Homo sapiens: one gene and its partners. The protein of the gene in region 6 purifies or fractionates together with the protein of the main gene of each other region. This does not show direct contact. Each region holds a gene or a part of one and is shown on either strand. Other genes may lie near its edges.

Region 1 (3,500 bases), on a different chromosome or scaffold from region 6:
GAAGCTATTGAATCCTTCAAAGAAGCTTTGAAGCAGAAAGTTGACTTTATTGATGCATATAAAAGTCTAGGGCAGGCATATAGGTGAGTAAAATAATAACAGTTGGGGTAGGAGGGAGGCTGAAGAGTGGGGAGACAAGATAGCTTCACATAATATTTAAAAGAAATAGTATTTCTTAACCAAAGGAGATGGGTATTTTGAATTGTGCAAGTATGTATAGACTTGTTGATATTTTCTCTGAAATGCAGAAAAATAAATTGTACCAGAGGATGTCATGATGCACAGTATTCTCTCTTAACTTCAGCGTGTGTATTGGTCTAGAAAACGTTCATCCTTCAAGGGTTGTTTTGAATAGTGGCATTGTAAGCTATTGGGGTGTAGACGCTGCTGCTACTTTCTTAGACAGTAACTAAGGTAAATTTCCTATGATCTCTTTGAAGAGTCCTAGAATGAAGGGATGGAAAAGTTGTGATTATAATGTACATCTGCTGAGAATGAGAAGTTGTAACTAGAACTTGGCTTCCTGACGCCATGCATTGCCCTGATGATTAGAGCCATTGTGACTTTTGGCTTAAAAAAAAAAAAAGTAAGCCGGGAGCGGTGGCTCATCCCTGTAATCCCAGCACTTTGGGAGGCTAAGGCAGGCAGATCACTTGAGGTCAGGGGTTAGAGACCAGCCTGGCCAACATGGTGAAACCCTGTGTCTACTAAAAATACAAAAGTTAGCTAGGCATGGTGGTGGGTTCCTGTAATCCCAACTACTTGGGAGGCTGAGGCTGGAGAATCGCTTGAACCCGGGAGTCAGAGGTTGCGGTGAGCCAAGATTGCACCACTGCACTCCAGCTTGGGCGACAGAGCGAGACTCTATCTCAAAACAGGAAAAAAAAAGTATATTGTGTTATGAAAAGGAGGTAGGATGGCATGAGTGAAGGAGCTCATGACTTAGTTCTGCCTTGGTCGTTCTGCAGGTATGAGTGCTTAACTTCCCTGAGCTTCTGGCTTCTCACTTGTAAAGGTGCTACAAAAGCTAGAAAAGAAAGACAGCGACGGAAAGTCCCTTTATTAGGTACCTTATTCAGGAAGGATTACATTCAAGAGCTTATTTATCTGATAGTTTGAGGAGCTCTTATACTAACTTGGAAGAAGTGTGTTTGGATTTGTTTGGGGTTTAAGGGATGATATTTGTGCTTCCTGTCTCACAGAATTATTGAATATAAATTGAAAACAGATTTGAAAGCACCTTGTAAAGTGCTGTATGAATGTAAGCAGGAATTATATTTTTAAAAAATGTTCACTATTTATAGAGAATTGGGTCCCGCTTTTCAGGAGGTCAAGTGGGAGCATCGCCTGAGCCCAGGAGGCTGATTTCAGCCTGAGCAATGCAGTGAGACCCGGTTTCTAAACCTATTTGAAAAGCAAATAAAAAGCAGATTGATCCATAACAACCATTTCCATCCTGGAATGGTTACAATTCTAAAATACACTTCTTTTTTCAGAATTCTAAATTATATAATGATTTACTAGATTTTAAGCAAAGCAACTTTGGTGACCAAAAAAAAAAAAAATGCATTTTTAAGGCTATGAATTTGATTGAGAATGATGAACTGTTTATGATTATAATTGGTATATTTTTTTCCAAATGGGAAAAGTGTGTTTCTATCCATATATTAACATTTACACAGTTTTTAGGGTTTGGGACTCATTGTGAATAATCAAGGAGAGGGGTTTGAATAAGCGTCTGCCTTTGGAAATCAGCAGATGAATTTTCCCCACAGAATTTCAAGAGCTCTGTGGTTATCCTATGAGCTGGTGAGATTTAGAAGTAAGTGAAATGTAATGTGTCAGAGGCTATAAAAAAGCAACAAAGGGAACACTCCCATCAAGGTATCTTGTTTACATATTGGTCCATAATTCTGAGGATAGCTTATTCTGTATGTTTCCCGTAATATCTATACTGTATTCATAACTATTATTAAATACCTAGAGAACTGGGCAATTTTGAAGCAGCCACTGAGAGCTTTCAAAAGGCACTGTTGCTCAACCAAAATCATGTGCAAACCCTCCAGCTCCGGGGAATGATGCTCTACCACCACGGCAGCTTACAGGAAGCCCTTAAGAACTTTAAGGTGAGCATCCATAAATAAGAACACTGTAATTGGAATTACTGGATTATTCTTCATTGAAGTTTAGTGAAATGAATAGAGAAGGGGGACTGAGAATAGTGTTTCTACTCCAACAAAAAGAAAGAGAAGAAATCATTGCTCTTGTCCTGTAGACTAGTTTACAGGTCTGGTTTAACCTGGAGGGAAAACTAATTCCAGAGTAAAGAATAAAGCATTTCAAAGTTTTCCTAAACTGTGTTGATACTAATGCAGCATTTTGTCCTCAGCGGTGTCTGCAGCTAGAGCCATATAATGAAGTGTGCCAGTATATGAAAGGGCTCAGCCATGTTGCCATGGGACAGTTTTATGAAGGGATAAAAGCACAAACAAAAGTTATGCTGAATGATCCTCTCCCAGGCCAGAAGGCTAGCCCTGAGTATCTTAAAGTAAAGTATCTCCGAGGTAAGTCAGAAAATCACAGAATTGTTGGATTTTCATGCTCAAAGCTGTAGAAATCATATTGCTTGACTCTTTTATGTTTCGTATGAAACAGTGGAGTCTGAAAGAGGCCAGGTGACTCATCCACAGCCACACCTTGTCAGTGCTAGTGTCGAGACTAGATGTTTCTATCTTCAAAAGATCAGTCAAATGCATTTTCTACCACTTTTAACATTTTTACTTTCTAAAGTTAAAACATTTTTTACTTAAGTTGAAAAGCCATATTTTGAACTAAATGTGACAAGCATCTGGAATATTTGTGTCTCATCACATCTCATCCAAGAATACAGGAAGGGCAGGAAACTGACATTCTGTGAGGTTCTTACTGTTTTTTTGTTTTGTTTTGAGATGGAGTCTTGCTCTGTCACCAGGCTGGAGTACAGTGGTGCAATCTCAGCTCACTGCAACCTCCGCCTCCTGGGTTCATCCCATTCTCCTGCCTCAGCCTCCCGAGTAGCTGGGACTACAAGGGCGCGCCATCATGCCCAGCTGATTTTTGTATTCTTAGTAGAGACAGGGTTTCACCATGTTGGCCAGGATGGTCTCGATCTCTTGACCTCGTGATCCACCTGCCTCGGCCTCCCAAAGTGCTGGGATTACAGGCGTGAGCCACCACGCCCAGCTGGTTCTTACTGTTAAATGTGAACTTGGTATCTTTGACTTGTCATTCCTTCATATCAAAATTCTCATATATTTTGGAGAAATATGAGGTGAGGAAGAAAGCAAATCTTGCAGTTACCCTTTTATTAGTTGTAGTTTTACTCACCTTTTATCTCCTGTCTCTGAAGACAGTTTTTTTAATTAAAGCCTACATTCTTTTTTGTTATTGTGAGCCCTTTATACCATGACTGTCCAAAATAAAAAAAAGGGGAAAGCTGTGTGTGTAATTTTAAATTTGTG
Region 2 (3,500 bases), on a different chromosome or scaffold from region 6:
ATGTCTGGCTACACAGATCATCTTTTGGCACTCTGGTGCACTTGTTAGAAACGATGCTGTCTCATTCTTTTTTTTTTTTTTTTTTTTTGAGACGGAGTCTTGCTCTATTGCCCAGACTGGAGTGCAGTGGCGTGATCTCGGCTCACTGCAACCTCCTCTTCCTGGGTTCAAGCAATTCTCCTGCCTCCGCCTCTCGAGTAGCTGGGATTACAGGTGTGCACCATAACCGGCTAATTTTTGTATTTTTAGTAGAGACTGGGTTTCACCATGTTGGCCAGGCTGGCCTCGAACTCCTGACCTCAGGTGATCCGCCCGGCTCGGCCTCCCAAAGTGCTGGGATTACAGGCGTGAGCCACCATGCCTGGCCATCTCATTCTTATATACCATTTTACTCTCAAACACCATAAAATAGACACTTTGGGGGTGACTGCTCATTTCCCTTCTCTGTGAATTTCTCTTTCCAAAAAAGTGGACCTTTACAGATACATTTACATTATCTGACCCATAATACCTACTTAGTATATTTATGTTATAATACATTTGTATTATATGTCTGTGTAACTCAATAACCTGACTGCAGGGGAGCTGATTCACTGGATAGTTAAGTAGTCAATGAGATATTTTTTCTTTCAAGAGTTTGAATAAGAGGCTCAGAGACTGAGAGCTAGGAGCCAACAGAGTTGGAGAAGGGAAATAGACTAGAGGGGAAGTCCACAAACTCTTGTTTTAAAATTTTTCATACTTCCTAGCTGGGCATGGTGGCAGGTGCCTGTAATCCCAGCTACTTGGGAGGCTGAGGCAGGAGAATCACTTGAACCCAGGAGGCGGAGCTTGCAGTGAGCCGAGATTGCGCCACTGCACTCCAGCCTGGGCGACAGAGCAAGACTCCATCTCAAAAAAAAAAAAAATAGTAATAATTCCATACTTCCAAACACCTGGATGTTCAGTGAGCTTTTGCTTTCATGAAATCTGTATCATTTATAATTTATTCCCTATTAAACTAATTTGGGCCTGGTGCAGTGGCTCATGGCTGTAATCCCAACACTTTGGGAGGCCAAGGAGGGAGGATCACTTGAAGCAAGAAGTTCAAAACCAGCCTGGGCAATACAGCGAGACCCTGTCTCTACAAATTTTTTTTTTTTTTAATTAGCTGGGTGCCATAGCATGTGCTTGTAGTCCTAGCTACTCAGGAGGCTAAGGTAAGAGGATCACTGGAGCCCAAGAGTTTGGGCTGCAGTGAGCTATGATTGTGCCACTGCACTTCAACCTGGGCTACACAGCAAAACTCTGTCTCTAAAAAACAAATAAATAAATGAATTTGGCTAGATTTCTACTACTTACAATACACTTTTAACTAAGACATTATATTACCTGATAATAGAACTATAGCTGACCTTTCTATTAACAATAACTTGGAACTACAGTAGACTGCAGTGATTATGGTCATCTCTGCTCTGTTACCTATGCAATTATGGACCCACCAATCATTTTCTTCATTTGTTTTTTTTTTTTTGGAGGGGGAGTCTCGCTCTGTCACCCAGGCTGGAGAGCAGGGGCGCAATCTCGGCTCACTGCAACCTTGCAACCTCCACCTTCTGGGTTCAAGGGATTTTCCTGCCTCAGCCTCCCAAGTAGCTGGGATTATAGGTGTGCACCACCATGCACAGCTAATTTGTTTTTGTATTTTTAGTAGAGATGGGGTTTCACCATGTTTGCCAGACTGGTACCAATCATTTTCTACTGAAGGAACAAAAAATCGTTTTCTTTTGAAGGCCATGAACCACAGTGAGGGAGCTGAGAATCAAATGAGGGACTTTTTAAAAAGAAACAAAACCAAAAATAACTAATTTAGTTTAGAGATTTTAAAAAGTCTCTTAAGAAGAAATTTAAAATGTTAATATTGCTTGCTTTTAAAATTAAGAACAGAGTACATAAATTAAATCACTTTGAAACATTAACTTTATATGGATGTTTGGAAGAGGCAGAAGAGAAAACAGACACATGCGGTAGCCAGTGGGAGAAGAGAAGATAAGCCAGTGGGATAAGGGAAGATAAGCTAAAAGGAAATGGAAGAGTAAGAGACACATTAAAATAAAAATGGGGTGGGGGGAAGAGGATGAAAGTAAACATCAGTATGGATAGACAGAGGAAAGGGGTAAAGAAAAAATAAAAATAAGCTGGAGGGGGACTAATGTCAGAGGCATTCGAACCAGAGTGACTCCATTTTGAGCAAGGGCTAGGAAAATGACGCCAGGTGCAGTGGCTCACGCCTGTAATGCCACCACTTTGGGAGGCCGAGGTGGGCGGATCACTTGAGGTCAGGAATTCGAGACCAGCCTGGCCAACATGCTGAAACCCTGTCTCTACTAAAAATACAAAAACTAGCTGAGTATGGTGGCACACACCTGTAATCCCAGCTACTTGGGAGGCTGGAGAATTGCTTGAATCCAAGAGGGAGAGGTTGCAGTAAGCCAGGATGACACCACTGCCCTCCAGCCTGGGTGACAGAGCAAAACTGTCTCAAAAAAAAAAAAAAAAAAAAAAAAAGTGGCCAGGACTTGCTGGGCTGCGTTCCCCAGAAAGTTGGGCATTCCTAGCCTCTAGATGTTTATGGCTAAGGGAACAAATTAATAATGTTTACTAAACAGACCCAGACTTGGGAGTGTCCAGATATTCCAATATCTGGAGAACAAAGGCATTCCTAATTTTGCTTTAAAGATAATAATATCGATTCTTGCAAAATGTGGTAATTAAGAAAATTAATCCTTTATTAGCTGGGCGCGGTGGCTCACACCTGTAATCCCAGCACTTTGGGAGGCCGAGGCAGGTGAATCACCTGAGGTCAGGAGTTCGAGACAAGCCTGGCTAACAAAGTGAAACCTTGTCCCTACTGAAAATACAAAAAATTAGCCGGGCATGGTGGCAGGCGCCTGTAGTCCCAGCTACTCGGGAGGCTGAGGCAGGAGAATGGTGTGAACCCGGGAGGTGGAGCTTGCAGTGAGCCGAGATCGCACCACTGCACTCCAGCCTAGGCGACAGAGCCAGACTCTGTCTCCAAAAAAAAAAAAAGAAGAAGAAAGAAAATTAATCCTTTATCACAAACCCTTGTGGCAGAGAGCACATCTCCTCATATATATACAAGCATTGTACCTAGGGCGGATGCGTTCCTCCTGCTACTTTCAGGTACGTCCTACTCTGTCTGTGTAGTAGCTGTTCTTTCACCACTTTACTTTCTTAATAAACTTGCTTTCATTTTACACTGCAGACTTGCCCTGAATTCTTTCTTGTGCAAGATCCAAGAACCCTCTCTTGGGGTCTGGATCGGGACCCCTTTCCTGTAACAGTAAGACACCTGGCAAGGAGAAAGATGCATAGCAGAAGAGGAGCTAGGGGAAAAAACATGGAGAGGCAGGCAAAGGCCGGGAAGATTTAGTGGTAATAGTTAGGGGCTGCTCCCAGATTCTGTGGGGAAGGGAGAGGAGGGAGGCTGTCTCTATTTT
Region 3 (3,500 bases), on a different chromosome or scaffold from region 6:
TCTTTTAAATAGAATAGTTATATCTAAGCCAATTACACAATTCCAATCATTTCAGCTATTTCAAGTAAATAATTAGTTATATGAAATTAATATTACCTTTAACATATCTTGAAGATGTGTTACTAACTGGTAATGCTATGTGTCTGTTTTCTCAACTCTGATATAGAAATTATAAAAGTACATTGTCATGGGCATTAAATGATAAACCATAAATATGGTTAATCATAGAGAAAAGTTTCTGGTTATCACAAGTACTCAAGTTGTAAAGCAAATGAAAATAGAGTTGATAAATGAAGTCAGGAACTGCTTATTTAAGAAGAACAAAACCACAGAAAGTCTAATAAAAACACAAGAAATTTAAGTTTTAGAAGAGTGGAGGCTAAACAAATATAAAAAGAATTTTATGAAAACATTTGGCAAAATTGTATGCCAGTTATTTGAAAAACACTTACAAGCCAGATTTTCTAAGGAGGAAAATAAAATTTAGTAAATAAAAACACATTTATCAAGCAATGATTCTGAGCTGGATAAATGTACTAAGTACTTTATATATTCTTTCCCATTTAATCCTCAATTTATTTTACAATAGGCACTGTCTATAGGCACAATTTAGAGACAGGGAAACTAGGCAAGTCACTTGGCCAAAGACAGTTGTTAATGAAGAGGCAGATCTATGACTTGAATGAATACAGGTCCCTGGGACAATGTGTGCTTGCACCCACTTGGTTACACTGATGTAGAGAAAGAAGGGTTAGCCTGGGAGCCCAAGGCATCAAGGTAGGCAAAAGGAGCCCCGGACAAAGGGCACCCATGAGGCTAACGCAAACTCATCGAGGTAGCGAGATAAAGTCAGTGGAAAAGTAGCCAGTGGCAGGCCAGAAAACAATTACATTCTCCAGCTGTACTTGGAAATGTAGAATTCACAAACGAATAAGTGGTGAAAAATAGTAAGAATTGGAAACGAAAAAAACCAGCAATGTCTCTGTAATGGCCTAAAAAGTTTTAGAACTTAAAGAAATTGTTATCTGGTAAGTTTATTCAGAAAATAGTGCATTCCCTACTGTTGCCAGATAATTGTGATGTAAATAATCTTTTCAGTACCTTTGACTTAGATTTCCCATTCTCTCTGGAGGAAGACATATCTTTGATTGCTTCTGGTGGCATATAATTAACTGTGCCAACCTATATGCCAAGTCAGAGAAAACACAAATCAATGAAAATATTTAATTCTGCTTTAGATTTTTTTTTGAGATTATTATTATTATTATTATTATTATTATTATACTTTAAGTTTTAGATTCTTAAAAATACAAATGCCAGATCCTTGGAAACTTGGGTAATTATAAATTTCAATGATATCCTTGCAAATTTCAAATAACTGCTGACAACGTTAAGATATATATATCAAATTTCTTCACAACTGCAGCAAAACGAGTTGGGTTCATAATCAGCAAAGTGACTCCTTTCAGAATGCTGTGCTTTTTCTATGATTATACTGGGCAACTAGTAAAGCCTGCCCTAAAAACTCTCCAGGCTAAAATCCTATTAATGGCCATAAACTTTGAGGCCATTGAGGGACTTACCATTCGTTTCTTGTTGTAACATACTCAACTTTAAAAAAATATATTTTTTAAATAAGCCCACCAATATACAAACAAAAATACCATCTAGCTTTGTCTCACAGTAGTCCTCTGAGTTTCTACAGTAGGATATGCCAACCTTACAATGAGCTCATTTTCTTCTAAAATACATGGTTTGCTTTAAACACAGAATATATCTACTTTAGGGCCTTGACATGGAAGATATTGTCAAGCTGATTTACAACTCATTGATCTGCCATACTTTTGATACAAAGAGACATGACTGTCAAATAGGGCATGTCGTCCATCATTCCTCCTAACAAAGTCTATTTTACTCCTGGGATTAAGGTGGACTCACATCAAAAATCTGTAAACATGGAACATATCATCTTGGTTCCAAGCAAGAATATCTTTTAGATATACTTTGGTGCCATTGCTTTAGTTTTTATAGAACAACGTCTTTTAGTTTGCTGTTGCAATATCTATTATAAAAATGTTGCTTATAATACTTATGGCATTTACAATATGAAGGCCCACTTAAGAATTTTTTTTCCAATTTCAGTGATAGGAAAAGGTCGGCTTCTCTAGAAGAATAAAAATGATCTTACCTCATAGACAGTGAAAAACATATAACTGCAACTCCCTCTTTGCTACAAGGAAACTCTGAGCCAAATTTTCAGGTCAATTTTTGATCACGACCAAGTGATTTCCAAGGAAGGTATTACTGTTTCTCTACTTCAGCTATAGGAAAACCATTCACAATTGCTGGAGATATTACTATTTGATCTTGACTTTCTATTCTACATTACAATGATCATGGTTTATATTTTTAAATCTATTCTTATTAAAAGACTTCAAATCCTTTGAAGAATGAGGTGATTAAAAATATAACACTCATTTGCAATATAATACTTCACAGGTAAAAAAAGAATTGAACTCTACTGTGAGAGAACCAACATTAAGTCTTACCTGAGAATCTTTAACAACACTTGTTGTATCTGGTTGCATTTGGTTTGCAATCCCAAAATCAATTAGCTTTAGCATTCCATCAACTATCAGAAAGTTAGCTGGTTTAAGATCACTGTGAACAATGCCTTTAAAATAAAAATCCACTGTAATATTAAACAATGCAAAACATTCTAAGGACCAAAAAATTCACAGTCTACAGGTCAAGCTGTATTTATTCCTTCAATTAGTGAACCCAATTCAATAATTTTTTTATATATTCTGCAAATATTTACATAGCACTTGTTATGTGCCAGGCACTGTTCTAAGTTCATTGTTTATACAGTACTGCATCATTTAATCTTCACATCAATGCTGAAGTATTATCATCATCCCCACTATAAGGCAAGGAAGCTAAGGCAATGAGAGTTTAAGTAACTTGTACAAGGTCACACAGCCTAAGTGACAGTTAGAATTGAAGCCAGACAGTCTGGCTTCAGAATCTATCCTCTTAACCACTGTGATTCACTGCCCACTAGAGAGCATCACAAATTATACTGCCAGACAGTAAGACCCTAATGCTCCTGACATCTCCACCCCTATAGCCCTGATCTTGATCACTGGTGAATTATCTTTTAAGATAATTTAAGAGAGAGAGATGAGGAGGAGATAAATTACAATTAACTAGGATAACAGTTATTAAGAACAAAAAAATATATAGGATAAGGTAAAGGCAGAGAAAAACCCTAAAAAGAACCAAGGACAAGTAAAAACCAACCCAGAAGGTAGGCCTAACAGTAAAAAACAAACAAAAAAACCAACTTCTCACACAGGGCATACAATACAAAATGATTAGGAGAATGAATAAAGTAAACATCTCATATTTTCAGGATGCCTGAACCCCAAAGTCTTAGACCTGCTATAATCCAAGTATTTGGAGATAAGGATGACAGACTACGTTAATACTGAGAAAAA
Region 4 (3,500 bases), on a different chromosome or scaffold from region 6:
TGGTAGTGGCAGGAGACATGTTTGGACCAATATGGATTGGGCAGGGCAGGGGTGGGCGAAAAGGAGTTGAGTCGATTTTGGAAACGTTGAACTTGAGGTGAAGGCTCTACTATCTATTCTTATAAGGGCTCCAACAAATACTTCTTGTTTCTGAACATCTGCACTTGCCAGGGACCTTGGACCTCTTTGCTTCCATGAAAGTACATTTTCTAAAACCTGCTTTCTCCAGGAACCCTTTCCAGATTAATTTTACTTGACTGCATTCAGACTTTTCACTTCTGATCATTCAACAGCTCTCCATCTGTTTTTTAATTTTTTTGTTCTTATACTGATTTTGCACACTTCTATGTTAGCATTAGGTTTGGCATGAGTAACAGAAATACCTAAACTAACAGTTTAAAACAAGATAGAAATACATTGCTCTGTCATGCGAACAAGCTGGACATAGGGAGTCAAGCATCAGAGTGAAGGCTCTATAAATACCAGGACCTGGGTTCCTTCTGTCTCACTACCCAGCTGTGAGAGGCTCATTTCCAAGGTCACCCTATGGTCCAGTATGAGGCTGGAGTGCCAGCTATTCTATCTTCATTATAGCTCCCATGTCTGCATTCTAGTTATCAAGAATGATGACTTGATAAAGGGCATTCTCTCTTTCTTTAAAAACACTTGCCCAGGGCCAGGCGCGGTGACTCACGCCTGTAATCCCAGCACTTTGCGAGGCTGAGGTGGGCGGGTCATGAGGTCAGAAGTTCAAGACCAGCCTGAACAATATGGTGAAACCCCGTCTCTAATAAAAATACAAAAATTAGCCGGGCATGGTGGCACACGCCTGTAGTCCCAGCTACTGGGGAGGCTGAGGCAGGAGAATCGCTTGAACCTGGGAGGCAGAGGTTGTGGTGCGCCAAGATCGTGCCACTGCACTCCAGCCTGGGTGACAGAGCAAGACTCCATCTCAAACAAAACAAAACAAAAACACTTGCCCATAATCTACAATGATTTCAAAATAAAAGTTTAAACAACAAAAACAACAATTCCCCTAAGTTGCACACATCATTTTCTACTTATATCTAACTGGCTAGACTTAGTCACATGGTCACCTAAACCAACAGGAAACTGGTAAATAGTCTTCATTTTGGGGAACTGTGCGCTCAGTTAAATTCAGAGAATTACTGACAAATAGTTAAATGGACATTTCTAGACAACTGGAAGTTTCTGCCACAGTCCCTATAGTGTATTATGTACACAGCAGCCAGTGACCTTTTCAAAATACAAATCAGATCACATCACAGCCTTGCTTAAAATCTTCCAGTAGAGTCCCATTATAGTTAGAACAACTCTGTGCCCCTTACTCTGACTTCGGAGGTACTATGTGACCTGGAGCCTGCGTGTCTCTCTGGCCTTCCGAGCGCTCTCTACTAGAACACAGGCCGCCTTCCCATCACTCAAAACACATCAAGCTAATTCTTGCCTCAGGAACCAGCTGTGCCTTCGGCCTAGAATCTCTTTGGCTGATTCCTTCCTGTTGTTCAGGTCTTGTGAGGCTTTCCCAATTTCTAAATAAGCGCTACATTTTCTCCTTCATTTTGCTTTACTTCATTATTATATTACCTGGTATTTTGAGTCTTGTTGGTTGTCTGTCTCTTCTCACTAGAAAGAAGGGCCTTGTCTGTCTGATTCACTGATGCATCTCCACAGCCTAAAAGACTGTCTGGCCTCAACAGTATTCAATACAGACACGATGAACACATGGGGGTGACTGAGCGCGACTCCAGTGCATCTTCTTTGTAACCGCAAACACATAGCACAGTAACTGACAGGCACACATCTTGGATGAACAAACAGTAGCCACACATGTGACCTTGCTTTTTTAAATGCGAGCACAAATCAGGGGATGGGAAAAGAACTGAGATTCCCCCCCACCCTCCTGAGATACCCTGCCACCACTGTTATTTTCCTCAAGCTGGCTCAATTTACCTTTGTTAGTAATTAAGTGTGTCTCTTTCTACATCTTCCTGTGTTAAGCAACTCAGTGGTAAACATAAAGCTTTTAAAATCCAACACAGAGAACCACCTACCTGGTCTCTCTGCTCATTACCATTTCCTATAATGACAGCAGAACAGAGTTCAATTAGAGTCCACATACTATTTGACATGGCAGTCACTTGTTTTTGATAAACTATGTTCCAAAGAACAAAAAAAGTACCCAAATTTAATCAAACTCAATCATACTTTACTAGTTAAGAACAAAGATGGATGGTGAACTTTGGGATCACTCCAGCCTACATATGCTAATGACATGCCAATCACTTTAGTAAGAAAGAGTAACTCTATAGCAGAAGTGCTTTCTCTTTCCTGCAGAATGTGACAAACTCCTCCTTAGTCGAGCTGATCTGAGATGGCGCTTTTGTAAGCTGTATTTTAATTACACATCAGTCCTCCTGACTGTACAGTGACTACCATCACCTTCTAACATGATCAGGTCATATTTGAAAGACTACTTGGTATCTTCTAGTGCTGTAATTTCCAATGTTACTCCAGGCATATTTAAACCAACATGTCTTAATGTCATTTTGATTAGAAAGGACTGAACTTTCAGATTAGTATACCCTGTAATTTTGGAAGCAATATAACAAACCCGTTGAAGTGTCAGTTCTTGGAGCCACCCTGGTGTTTGAGGTGACTGAGAGGGCAAGGCCTCCCACCAATCACAGCAACTCTGTTCTGTTGTCCTTTTTCCTTTTTTTTTCAAGTGCTTCCTCACAAAAGTTCCTCTGAAGTTTGGAAACCATTGGATTAGACCACCTCTTAAGATGCTCCTTTCCAACTCAAAGATCATAATAATTTCAATCTCCAGTGCCTCAGGGAGACGTATTTCTAAGTATAAATAATTATTCTACAGGAGCGTAAGTTGAAAAATGATAGGAGATTGTGCTGGATGGGTGGTACCCCAAGAGAAGGAGGTAGTCTATTGTTTTAAAATTTCAGATATGAACTTTATTTCTAGTCTATCATTTTTCTATCTTTTCTAAAAAGGACTGAAAATGGCTTTGATTTCAACTTGTTTTGTCATGCAGGGTTTTTCCTAAATAGTGATTTTAATTTCAAAATGAAAGATAAACCAGATTGCAGTTGAGGATTTACTACAAAAAAACCATTATTTAATAAGACTTTTCAATTGACAGTGTTAAAACAGTTTTTCCCAACCCCTGGAAGGAAAAGCCAAAAAGTTGATTTTTAATAAGGCTTTAGTATTAAAGGACAAGTTTTTCAGTACCACACTTATTTCTGTATAACTAGTTTATAGTCCTGGGTGAAATGTAAGAATGAAAAACGAGTTAATACTTGCACCGTCTCAGACAAGATTTTTAAATACAGTGCCAAGGAATATTTTTGCTGTTACATTACAAATTTAACCAGTTTCTACAGCTTGAAATATTGCTGAGTCGAACAGATTCTCCTGAAGCAAGTGTGCAGAATAAGAACAAAAAATGGATTTATAA
Region 5 (3,277 bases), on a different chromosome or scaffold from region 6:
TGAAACCACTTACTTTAATCTAATTACTGTTTTGGAGATGAAAGGCCATCAATTACATGCTGAAATCTCCCAAACCTATCTCTCTAATCCAGTCTTTTCTCATAAGCTCCAGAATCATGCAGTAACTGCCATTTATTTATCTCCAGAAGCATGTCACTCAGGCACTTCAAACTCAACATGAGCTCAACTTCTTCCCCTATAGACCTGTCCCTTTATCAGTGGAAGCCCAGTCATTAAAGCAGACTTGTGAGTTATCATTGATCCTTCTTTCTCCTCTCTCTGGCTATCACTATATTTAATCTGTCCCGGAATCATACTGAGTCTATCTATTAGGTATATCTTAAACACTTTCTCTTCTTTCCATTCCCACTGCCACTCCTTCTACCCTAACTTAAAGCAACAGCCAATTCATGATTCCTTGGCTTCATTCATTAACCTTCTCAAATCTGTACATCATACAGAGGTTGCATCACTGAATTAAGTAGGTGACTTCCCAAGACATCTGTTCCAAAAGAAGAGTAGTTAACTGAACATTGGGTCTTTCTACTTTTGTGGCCTCACTTTGGGCAAGATTGTTGTCTTACATTTCAGACTCAAATTTTCTTGGATTTCTTTCAGTGACTAAAATGTTCTCTCCTCTTGTCTGAATGCCTTGTGTAGTTTCCTTTATCCCAAGCAATGATTTTCTCTTATTCACATTCTTAATACACACTCACTTTTAAAATCCAAGTTTGAACGTTTTCCTTCAGTTCATTTTGATAAACTAAACTGCATTAATTCTCATTGTTTTACATCTCATCAAACTTTAAATACTCCTGTAATAGCTTGTTGAATTGCCTTCTCTGCTAGACTGTAAGCTCACCACGGTAGGAAACATGTCCTCCTTATTCATGCCAGAAACCCTAGTAGGTTCTCAGAAAATGTTAGGAATTTAATCCCTCCTTAGGGAGAAAATGTGTCTCTCATGTGCAAATATTAACGAAAGTATCTTAAGCAGTTGTTCATAGCTCAGTGTATATTTTATATGTTCTAAATTGGTGGTTCATTAACATTGGTTATTTAGTCTGTGTAGACTTTGGGATTTTGTTTTTTAGTTAGTAGCCAATAGCTGAAACCTAGGAGATTTCATATAAACTTGCACACTTCTGAGTTCTCTTAAGAACCATGTTGTCTGGCAGTCCATGGTCATAGTTGGCTGGAGTTAAGCAGCAGCTGCCTCACTCCCCCAACCGCTGCCTACACTTGGAGTCCACCACAAGTCCATACAGCTTTCTCTCTGCCTACATCACTCGTTTCCATCAACTGTCTGGTTGTTTCCGGCATTTGAGTTTTAACCTTTTTTGTATATGTTTTCTTCTGTTATAAAATTGCTTTGTATGCTTATATTGAACAAAATAATCTCACTAAATTTTTAAAGTCATCTAAGAATATTTATGACACTTCTAAATTTCAGAGATTATCCATTTGTTCTTTGAAAACAAATGAAAATATTTGAAAATATTTTCTATGTAAAGGTTTACCTAAACTTTGCAAATACTCATGTAAATAATTGATTCAATCCAGACTCATCGATGGCTGCTAAAATTTTGGGTGAAAGATTTTTGGGAAACAGAATGGTGACATAATCTCGAAGTGTCAAATTATAGGTGACTTATTAACTGCAGAAGGATTTTTCAATGGAGAAAACTGGTAGACACCACCTTCACCAAGGGACCAAAATTAAAATTCCAATGAGGTATAAACTGAAATGATGTGCTTCCTGATATGATTTACTAAGCATCATGCAAATCACGTGTGTAGTATTGCCACCAACAATATTTTACCTGGACATACTCACAAGCAAACAAACACATCCAATAGTTGGGATATTTTACAAAACAACTGGCTTTGCCTCTTGAAAAAAATATAAATGTCACAAAAGAACAAAAAAATAAGAATGAGGAATTTTTGGAGATAAAGAAAGGTAACTAAATGCAATATGTGGTCTTTGACCTTGGATCAAAAGAAAAAATAAAACACTATAGAAGACACTATTGTTATAATGAAAGAAATTTGAATGAGGGATTATATTAGATAGAGTAGCATATCAATGTTGAATTTCTGAAGTGTGAGAATGGTATTGTGGTTATATAGGACAAGTCTATATATAGATTTGCTCTAGTAGAAGAACACAAGTTGAGGGCTTTGGGAGTGAGGTGTCAGCATGTTCACTACTTATTTTCAAATGATTCAGCAAAATATTTGTATGCTCAGAGAAACAGAGGAGAGAGATTTCTGGTTTTTGGACACAGTTGATAAATCCCAGTAAAAGTTATACAGTTATTCATTGTAATTTAAATTTTTTGGTAGATTTGAAATTTTCGCAACAAATGGGAGAGAAAGAGGGAAGTAAAGCCTATGGATTAAAAAAGATTTTAGAGATATATCACCTAATGCAATTGTGGACCTTGTTTGGTTCTTAATTCAAACCTACATGTGTAAGGAAACATCAGATAATTTAAAGAATTTAAGCAGTAATTGGGTATTTGCTAATATTAAGAAGTTATTTTTTAAGATGCAAGAATCACCAGATTAAAACAAGTCATTATGGTTTTGATTAGAAGAGCACACCAAACATGTTATAGAAGAAATACAGTAGTCTGAGACTTACTTCAAAATAAGCTAGTTGGGTAAGTAGTTAGGGACACAGATGTCCTAAGATGAGCTGTGTATTGATAATTGTTGAAATTGGGTAATTGATAAATGGGAGTTCATTGCTATCTTTGCTGTATACAAAGACAGTTCTTGCTATCTTTGTATATGTTTACATTTTTAAATAACAAATGATCCCCTCTATTTTGCTTGAAACCCCAAGAACAAGAAGAGCAGAAAATTTTGAATTAAATTTGGATTATTTGGTGCCTCAAAAACCAAACAAATATATGATTTACCACTTAAAAAATCCAGGTGATAACCAATTTTACATTACCTTTAATGATGTGAAGACAAGCCAAAAAAATTCAAATGTTTGCAATTTTCTGTACGTGGTTTAAGATTATTATAATAGAACATTTTCAAAAATTCACAAAAGCAGACAGAATGATATAATTAACCCTCATGTACCATCATAGCTTTGACAATTATTAATGTTTTGCCATTGCTGTTTCATCTCTCTCCCCATTCTGAACTCTATTTTTTTTTGAGACAGAGTCTCCCTCTGTCACCCAAGCTGGAGTGCAGTGGCACAATCTTGGCTCACTGCAACCTCTGCCTCCTGGGTTCAAGCAATTCTTGTGAC
Region 6 (3,971 bases):
AGGCAATATCTCAAATACCTGCCGTGTTGCCCCTATGACCTCAGGTCCTACTGCTGTCCCGGGTGTCTGACTCAACAGCAGCTTCCGTGGCCTCCTTTCTGGGTCTCTTGGGAACACACCTCTCTCCTATCTCAGGGTTTTGCAGGTGCTGCCTGCAACCTCTGGCTTCCTCCCTCACTTCCCCAGATGTCTGGTAAAATGTCATTTACCAGAATCCCTGGCTTCCTCCCTCACTTCCCCAGATGTCTGGTCAAATGTCATTTACCAAAAAGCCTTCCCTGGCCAAGCTGTATAAAAATAAATAACAAGCCCCACCCTGCCCTCTGGCAGCACTCCCCAGTCCTCTCAGCCAGCTTTATTTTTCTCCATTACAGTGTCTCATTAGCTGATACACTCTATACTTATTTATTTGTCCATCATCTTACACACACACACATACACACACTCTCTCATTAATTTAAGCTCCTTGAGAGAGGGCTTTTTTGGTTGTTTTTGTCTGTATTCTCCACACATAGAGCAATGGCTGACACATAGTAGGAACTTAATGAATGAACTGCCATTTCTTGAGCACCTACTTTGTGCCAGGCAAGTTATATATGATGATCGGGTAACAATGAGTAAATATTTTAAAGTATCTTTTCTTTAATTATTATAAGAATCCTATTACTGTCTCCATTTTACAGATCAGGAAACTAATGCTCAAAGAGGGGCTGAGTAACTTGCCCAAGACACTCACCTAGGTCTGTTTGAGCATCCACGCTCATGCTTCTTGTAGTGCACGCTGCTTTTCAAATACCTTAATGATGATGTAGGCGCATGTAACACACATCTCTGGCAAATACATAACACAAGAGCTTTTCATTCTATCATTTTTCGTCACCCATCACAGCTTTGGTCCAGGAAGAAACATCCTTGAGATTGGATTTTCATCTCCCAGAAAAGACTGGTAGTAACAGCTTTAGTTTTCCCTTATTCCACCCATTTAGGGAAAATCAAGGGAGAGTTTTCCTTTTGAACTGGGCTGGGACAAGAACAGATAGGTCGGGGACCCAGGGAGAAGCAGACAGAAGTTCATCTGCTCTGAAACTCCCTCAGAATTTTCCAGAGTCCCTGCCTTTGTGAAGTGTTGCTTCAAAACCTTCATAGTCCTGGAATTCAGGAAAAGCATTCATTAAAAAAGGAAAAAATTAAAGTCTGACTTGTATTGTGTGTGCTCCTCTCTGGGTGTCAGCCTGTGTCTACTGGGGTCTAGTCACATACTGCAAATACCAGCCCAGCCGAGACTTGTAAAGCTCTGCCCACCCAGTGGCAGTGATGGCAATGGTGTGGGAGAGTCATGTGGGTCACTCCCGGACCGAAGAACCAAGAGAGCGACCCAGTCCCTGCTGAAATCCACGCCATGCCTAATCCATGAGGGCTTCATTTTTATACTAATCACTGCCACTATCAATTTCCTCCTCCTCTCTGCTCTCACTGCTCTTTTCCAACACCATCATGAACTTATCCACCTCCTGATTACGAGTGCTTCTCCCCCTACCAGGTGTGAACCTCAGGGAGCCAGGACATTGTTATCATCATCTCTGCATCCCCAAGGACTAATCCCATCTCTGACAAATACTAAGTGCTCAGTAAGTATTTGCTGACTCAAGAAAGATGCAGAACGAGCCTGTACCTACTGCACCAACTGGAACAAGCAGAACAAGTCACCTCTTCTGGAAAGGGCAGGAAGCAGAAACACAGAGGAGACCAGCATAGACCAGAACCACCGCTGAGCCGACTACAGTGCCCAGTCCTCCCTCATGCACCCTCCTTACCCCTCACCTGCCACTCTCTGAGCCCCAAAGCCACCCACATTCACCTCCCCAAGGGCTAGAAAGCCAGCAAGCATTCCCCCAGCGTCCCACCCCACCCCACTGGGGCTGCTCTTATCAGAGCCCAAGACACCAACGTTAAGTTACCCTTAAACGGAGTAATTTGCATCTGTAATTTCCGGATAAAGGAGTGTATTTCATCAGCCCTGCTGAACCCTGGACAGCAGAGATTTCTACCACCCGTCTGCCGAAGACACAGCGGTGCCTTGCTCCTCCCTGGCTAAACGCATTTGCTAGCCCATCCCTGCAAAACAAGTCATTTTCTTTCCCTTGCGCTAAAACCCGTCCATAAACAAATCCTTCTGTGTCCCTAAGAAACGGCTCCCACGCCCACGGAGGGCGCCCTGCACATACAGAAATACACACTCACAAACCCCAAGAGCCACCAGGTGTAAGCACGTTTGAATTCTGTTCTTTAAGAACAAGCCAACAACAATAACAAAATCTATCTACTAGAATGTAACTGAAACTAAAAGCAGCGGCTAGGAAGCTTATGGAAACGGAGCTATAAATGCCAGCAGCCTGACATTTATAAGTTGCAAAACTACTTATGGCGCTAATAGTTCAAACAGGGTTTTAAAACAGCCCTTGGGGAGGCCGCTTTCAAAGAAGCGCACAGCTCCAGGCAGCGGGCAAGTCCTTGCTTTTCTGCGCCGGTTTTTCAAGACTCTCCGATCTTTTGTGCCATTTACTATGAACAGCACTCAGCTGTGCGAGCGTGTATATTTCAGCCCAGGCAGGCGAGTCTGGGAGCCCTGGCGCACGCGGGGTCCGCGCCCCGGCTGGGTCGGTTGCACCGCAGCGAGCAACGCAGTCCCCTACCTGGGTGGCAAATCCGCTGGCGGCCGCCTCCGGATGCAGGCAGAGCAGCGTCCGCCCCGGCAGCCCCGCGTGCAGCTCCGGCTAACGCGGAGCTGGGCGATCCGGGCGGAGGCAGGCGCCGGCGGGTGTCACACCTGCATCACCGCGCCCACGCCGCCCCCGCCAGCCGCCCAGGCGCAGCGCGCAGCGCGCCCCCGCGCTACAGAGCACGCGGGGCGGGAGGCTCCTGGGTCCTCTACTCAGCGGGATCAGATCCTAACCCGCTTTCTTCCCGGCCCGGGCATTAAAAGTATTCGCTGCGGGCAGCTCTGCTTCTAAATCTCCTTCTGATCGAAGGCTGGGTGTGGAGATAGCTCAGAGGGAAGGAGGACCAGTGAGGCCGCAAGGTCTCCGGATTTGCAGACCAATAAATATTAAACTTCTTATTCCTCGAGTTTTGTAACCAGCTGATCATGGGCGTCGTCTCGCTGTCTCCACCCCGCCTAGGGCGAGGGGGCGCTGTGGACTCCACATGCCCTTCCACCCACTCCGAACTAGGATGCGTCAGAGGACTAGACGCAAGTTCCCGGGAAGGGGAATCCTCTGATCACGCCGCCCCCAAAGTATCGTCGATCATGGTGCTGTTCGACTGCTTTGTTCTCGTTTGCCTCATCAGGAACTGAAGAGAACCTACCCGGCCAGCGCGGGGAGGAGGAAAGCCTGCAAGGCTTGGTGCATTCAAACAAGCCCTCCACCTCTGTCTCCCTCCTTCCAAACCACCACCCACTAACTCCACTGACGAGAGTTCAGCAAACTAAACTGCCAAGGCTCAGCACCGAAAGACTCTTTAGGAGCATAGGGCTCCTTCTAGGAGCAAGTAAGGAGCAAGGAAAGGACACTGGAAATTCGGATGCGGACTCAAACAGCACAACACTGCAGGTGCCTGGCCCCTCTAGGATCCGAAGCTACGTTCCTTTCCTAACAGGGCTAAAATGAAGGCCAGTTCTGGAAGAGCCTTCCCCCTCTTCTCCATGGAGCACATCCTCCATCATGAGGTCTTCAGCTGGACTCCCCACTCTCGCTGCCGTCAATGACCTGCGCTCCAGCTCCCTGCCTCTTCCCTGGCTGGGGCCTCCGCCGACTCGCACCTGGACCACCCGCAAGGACTTCAACTTCTCAGGCTCCTGGAGTCATTTCTCAACATGTAAATCTGATCTTGACTCTTTCCTACCTAAAACCATGTGATGGCTTCCCAGTGTCCTTGAAAAATCCGAAACATTTTTTTTTTTTTTTTTTTGA
Region 7 (3,500 bases), on a different chromosome or scaffold from region 6:
AGGCCCCATTAACTGGTTTTTCCCATCCAAAAAACTGAGTGGACACAGGAGTCGGGCAGACAAGAGATGAACCTTTATAACTGATACAGCTATTGAAGAATACAGGTTAAATGTGATGGCCAAATGGGCTTGCTAGCAATTTGTGCCCTCTCCTCTACATTCTAGACTTTGAGACAGTATGCTCAAGGGTAAGTCTGGTTAGGATAATTGCCTTACTGGTCTGGGCAGAGAGGTGCAAAGAGACTGATTCCCACTACTCATAGCTTTCTGACTGATCAGCTCTTCCTAATCAAGCAAAACAGAGCAAAGGCAATCACCCTCCAGTAAGGTAACTCACACCGCCATGGTAAGATGTTAGAGATGGGTCTAGTGATCAGTGGTGTTTTTTTAGGGAAGTTCCTCCCAACCATGGGGCACGGATGAATGGGCAATAATTGTCCCTCCTCTAAACAGGCTAGCTAATCTGTACATTTGAAAATACAGGCCGAATGAGCTTAAAAGGTTTATTAATTCCTATCTAAAAATTAAAATCCAAATATTTTATAAGCACATCCCTGTTCTTCTGCTTTTCTTCTGTTAACCAAGTTTCAGCATTCATTTGAATATAAGGATTTAGTTATAAAACACGAGAGAAAGAGAATGAAGCACATTTTCTAGCTACATAAATAGAAGTCTGTAATGACTGACTGGCACCATGAAGACAAATCTTGACTTCAGCATAAAGTAAATACTACAAAATTTAAGATAATTTAGCTTGTCATTATTTCAATTCACAGATTTTTTTAAATGAATATGAAGTGTTTACTGTTGGCTAGAATTACTGTATACAAAGGATAAGGAAAGTCATGGTCCCAAAAGACAATTAAAAGAAATATAGAGGCTGGGCGCAGTGGTTCACGCCTGTAATCCCAACACTTTGGGAGGCCGAGGTGGGTGGATCACCTGAGGTCAGGAGTGCAAGATCGGCCTGACCAACATGGCGAAACCCCATCTCTACTAAAAATACAAAATTAGCCAGGCATGGTGGCAGGTGCCTGTAATCCCAGCTACTCGGGAGGCTGAGGCAGGAGAATCGCGTGAACCCAGGAGGCAGAGGTTGCAATGAGCCAAGATCGCGCCACTGCACTCCAGCCTGGGCGACAGAGCAAGACTCCATCTCAAAAAAAAAAAAAAAAAAAAGAAATACAGAATTGCCACTGACCCCACAAGAAGTACAGGTGTCTGAGAAGCAGGTGCTGTTACACAAAATATAAATACTGTGCAGGAACCTATAATTTAAGATGGTAACGAAAGATCTTTCAATAGCACATCTTTTTTCCTACACTCCTCTCTCATCTTCCCCCCATCTCCTCTGAAAAGATGCAATATCCAAATTGGAGTGCCCTATTATTAAAGTCATTCTAAACATGGTATGAATGACTAATAAATCATCTGTATATACCCCCCAACAAAGACTTCTGCAACCCCTTTCTAGACTTCTAGAATGGACGTGAAATCTAAGGATACATGGAAGAAGATTCTTCTGCTGCCTGAAGGCTGTGAAAGATTACATAGAAGTAAAATCTGTTGAGTAAAAACTGTCAAGCAACTACTTGTTTGGGGAATTACAGTTTGCATTTAGTTACAATGTTTATAATGTTTGATTCAATAAATATTTAGGTGTTTACTATGTGCCTTACTATGAAGAAAATAAAAAGCTACCATCTGTCCTAAAAATGAGGCAACTAACTTGTCCAAGGTCATAAGGTGGTCTGGTCCAAGTTCTAAGTCATCTGTTATTCAGATTATAGAGCTTAGAGAGTAACTGAGTTATCTTATACCTGGTGGATAAGGGGATAAAGAAGATGCCACAGACAGTCACTACCATCTCTGCCTTCTAGTTTAGGATATGGATATCTCAAAAGAATGTTCTATATTAATTGTCTCCAATTCTTCCCTTTCATTCTCTCCTGAACCCAATCTACCCAGACTACTGAACTCACCACTTCACCAAAACAGTTCTTACTGAGGTAGCCTGTGACCGCCATACGGTTAATTCCAACGGTGAAGTCTCAAAGCTCATCTTATTTGAATCATCATCATCATTTAACCCAGCTGATCCCTTTGTCTTTGAAACACTTTTTTCACTTGACTGAAGAGAACCTTGTATTGGTTTGCCTCCTACCTTACTGGTCGTTCCTGCTCTATCTTCTTTGTTGATTCCCCTCCATCTTCTTGACTCTTTTTTTTTTTTTTTTTTTTTTGAGACGGAGTCTCGCTCTGTCGCCCAGGCTGGAGTGCAGTGGCACAATCTTGGCTCACTGCAACCTCCGCCTCCCGGGTTCAAGCAGTTCTCTACCTCAGCCTCCCGAGTAGCTGGGATTCCAGGCGCCTGCCACCACGCCTGGCTAATTTTTATCTTTTTAGTAGAAACGGGGTTTTACCATGTTGGCCAGGCTGGTCTTGAACTCCTGACCTCGTGATCCACCCGCCTCAGCCTCCCAAAGTGCTGGGATTACAGGCGTGAGCCACCACACCCGGCTCCTTGACTCTTAAAGTCTGGAATCCCCAAGGCTTATTAGCTCCCAGATCTCTTCTCTTCTCTTTTACGTTCACTCCCTTGGTGAACTCATCCAGTTTTGTGGCTTCAAGTTACTCTCTAAGTGCCTCGGACTCCCAAATTCCTATCTACAGCCCTAAACTTTCTTCTTGTAACTCTACACCTGAATAACCAATTGCCTACATACCAGCTCAACTTCAACGTTTAACAGACACCCCAAATTTAGCATGTCCGTAAACCAAATTCCTGATGTTCTCCAAACCAGGCTCCTAGTCCAGGTTTCTCCATCTCAACAAATGGCAATTGCATCCTTCCAGTTACTGAAGCCAAAAATCTTTAGAATTATCTTCAGTTTCTCTTTTTCTCTCGCATACCACATTCAAGCCATCAGTAAAATTCTGTTTGCTCCATGTTGAAATTCAATCCAGAATCTGACCATTTTGCACCACCTCCACTGCTACCACCCAGGTCCAATCTATACCACAATTATCCCTCTAAGTAACTAATGCCTCACAGACTATACTCAGTACACTAAAGAGATCATTTTGAAATTCAAGTCAAATCATGTATCTTTTCTGTTCAAACACCACCTCCCCCAACTTACTTATAAGTAAAAGCCGAAGTCCTTACAATGGCCTACAAAGCCCTACATGGTCTTCCCTTACCACCTATGACTCAGATCTTGTCTCCTATTGCTGTTCTCCCATTACTGTTTTCCTTGATCACTCTGCTCCAGCCACACTGCCTGCCTTGCTATTCCTCAAACGCTAAGCAAGCTCTTGCCTCCTGGCCTTTGTGCTTACTGTCTGCTCTTCCTTGAATGTCCTTCTACCATGCTATGGTCTGAATGTTTTTGTCCTTCGAAATTCTTATGTTGAAATCTAATCCCCATTGTGACAGTAATACAAGGTGGGGCCTCTGTGAGGTGATTATATCACGAAGGTGGAGTCCTAATGGATGA

The links.
Region 1: the proteins of SV2B (region 6) and TTC13 purify together in Homo sapiens (affinity purification with mass spectrometry; one large-scale study listed by BioGRID and IntAct). This does not show direct contact.
Region 2: the proteins of SV2B (region 6) and RAB39A purify together in Homo sapiens (affinity purification with mass spectrometry; one large-scale study listed by BioGRID and IntAct). This does not show direct contact.
Region 3: the proteins of SV2B (region 6) and TTK purify together in Homo sapiens (affinity purification with mass spectrometry; one large-scale study listed by BioGRID and IntAct). This does not show direct contact.
Region 4: the proteins of SV2B (region 6) and NETO2 purify together in Homo sapiens (affinity purification with mass spectrometry; one large-scale study listed by BioGRID and IntAct). This does not show direct contact.
Region 5: the proteins of SV2B (region 6) and SLCO1C1 purify together in Homo sapiens (affinity purification with mass spectrometry; one large-scale study listed by BioGRID and IntAct). This does not show direct contact.
Region 7: the proteins of SV2B (region 6) and DNAJC1 purify together in Homo sapiens (affinity purification with mass spectrometry; one large-scale study listed by BioGRID and IntAct). This does not show direct contact.

Annotation. Positions count from the first base shown.
Region 1 is NC_000001.11:230,930,362-230,933,861, reverse strand, and holds part of TTC13 (tetratricopeptide repeat protein 13 isoform a precursor), read left to right. Parts: coding exon 1-83; intron 84-1,984; coding exon 1,985-2,126; intron 2,127-2,389; coding exon 2,390-2,564; intron 2,565-3,500.
Region 2 is NC_000011.10:107,934,948-107,938,447, reverse strand, and holds part of RAB39A (ras-related protein Rab-39A), read right to left. Parts: intron 1-3,500. UniProt on the Homo sapiens protein: The small GTPases Rab are key regulators of intracellular membrane trafficking, from the formation of transport vesicles to their fusion with membranes.
Region 3 is NC_000006.12:80,035,649-80,039,148, reverse strand, and holds part of TTK (dual specificity protein kinase TTK), read right to left. Parts: intron 2,675-3,500; coding exon 2,550-2,674; intron 1,183-2,549; coding exon 1,102-1,182; intron 1-1,101.
Region 4 is NC_000016.10:47,137,446-47,140,945, forward strand, and holds part of NETO2 (neuropilin and tolloid-like protein 2 isoform 1 precursor), read right to left. Parts: intron 1-3,500. UniProt on the Homo sapiens protein: Accessory subunit of neuronal kainate-sensitive glutamate receptors, GRIK2 and GRIK3.
Region 5 is NC_000012.12:20,747,332-20,750,608, reverse strand, and holds part of SLCO1C1 (solute carrier organic anion transporter family member 1C1), read right to left. Parts: intron 1-3,277. UniProt on the Homo sapiens protein: Mediates the Na(+)-independent high affinity transport of organic anions such as the thyroid hormones L-thyroxine (T4), L-thyroxine sulfate (T4S), and 3,3',5'-triiodo-L-thyronine (reverse T3, rT3) at the plasma membrane.
Region 6 is NC_000015.10:91,099,086-91,103,056, reverse strand, and holds the start of SV2B (synaptic vesicle glycoprotein 2B), read right to left. Parts: upstream 2,801-3,971; 5' UTR 2,694-2,800; intron 2,107-2,693; exon of another isoform or gene 1,981-2,106; coding exon of another isoform or gene 1,959-1,980; intron 1,262-1,958; exon of another isoform or gene 737-1,261; intron 1-736.
Region 7 is NC_000010.11:21,997,231-22,000,730, forward strand, and holds part of DNAJC1 (dnaJ homolog subfamily C member 1 precursor), read right to left. Parts: intron 1-3,500. UniProt on the Homo sapiens protein: May modulate protein synthesis.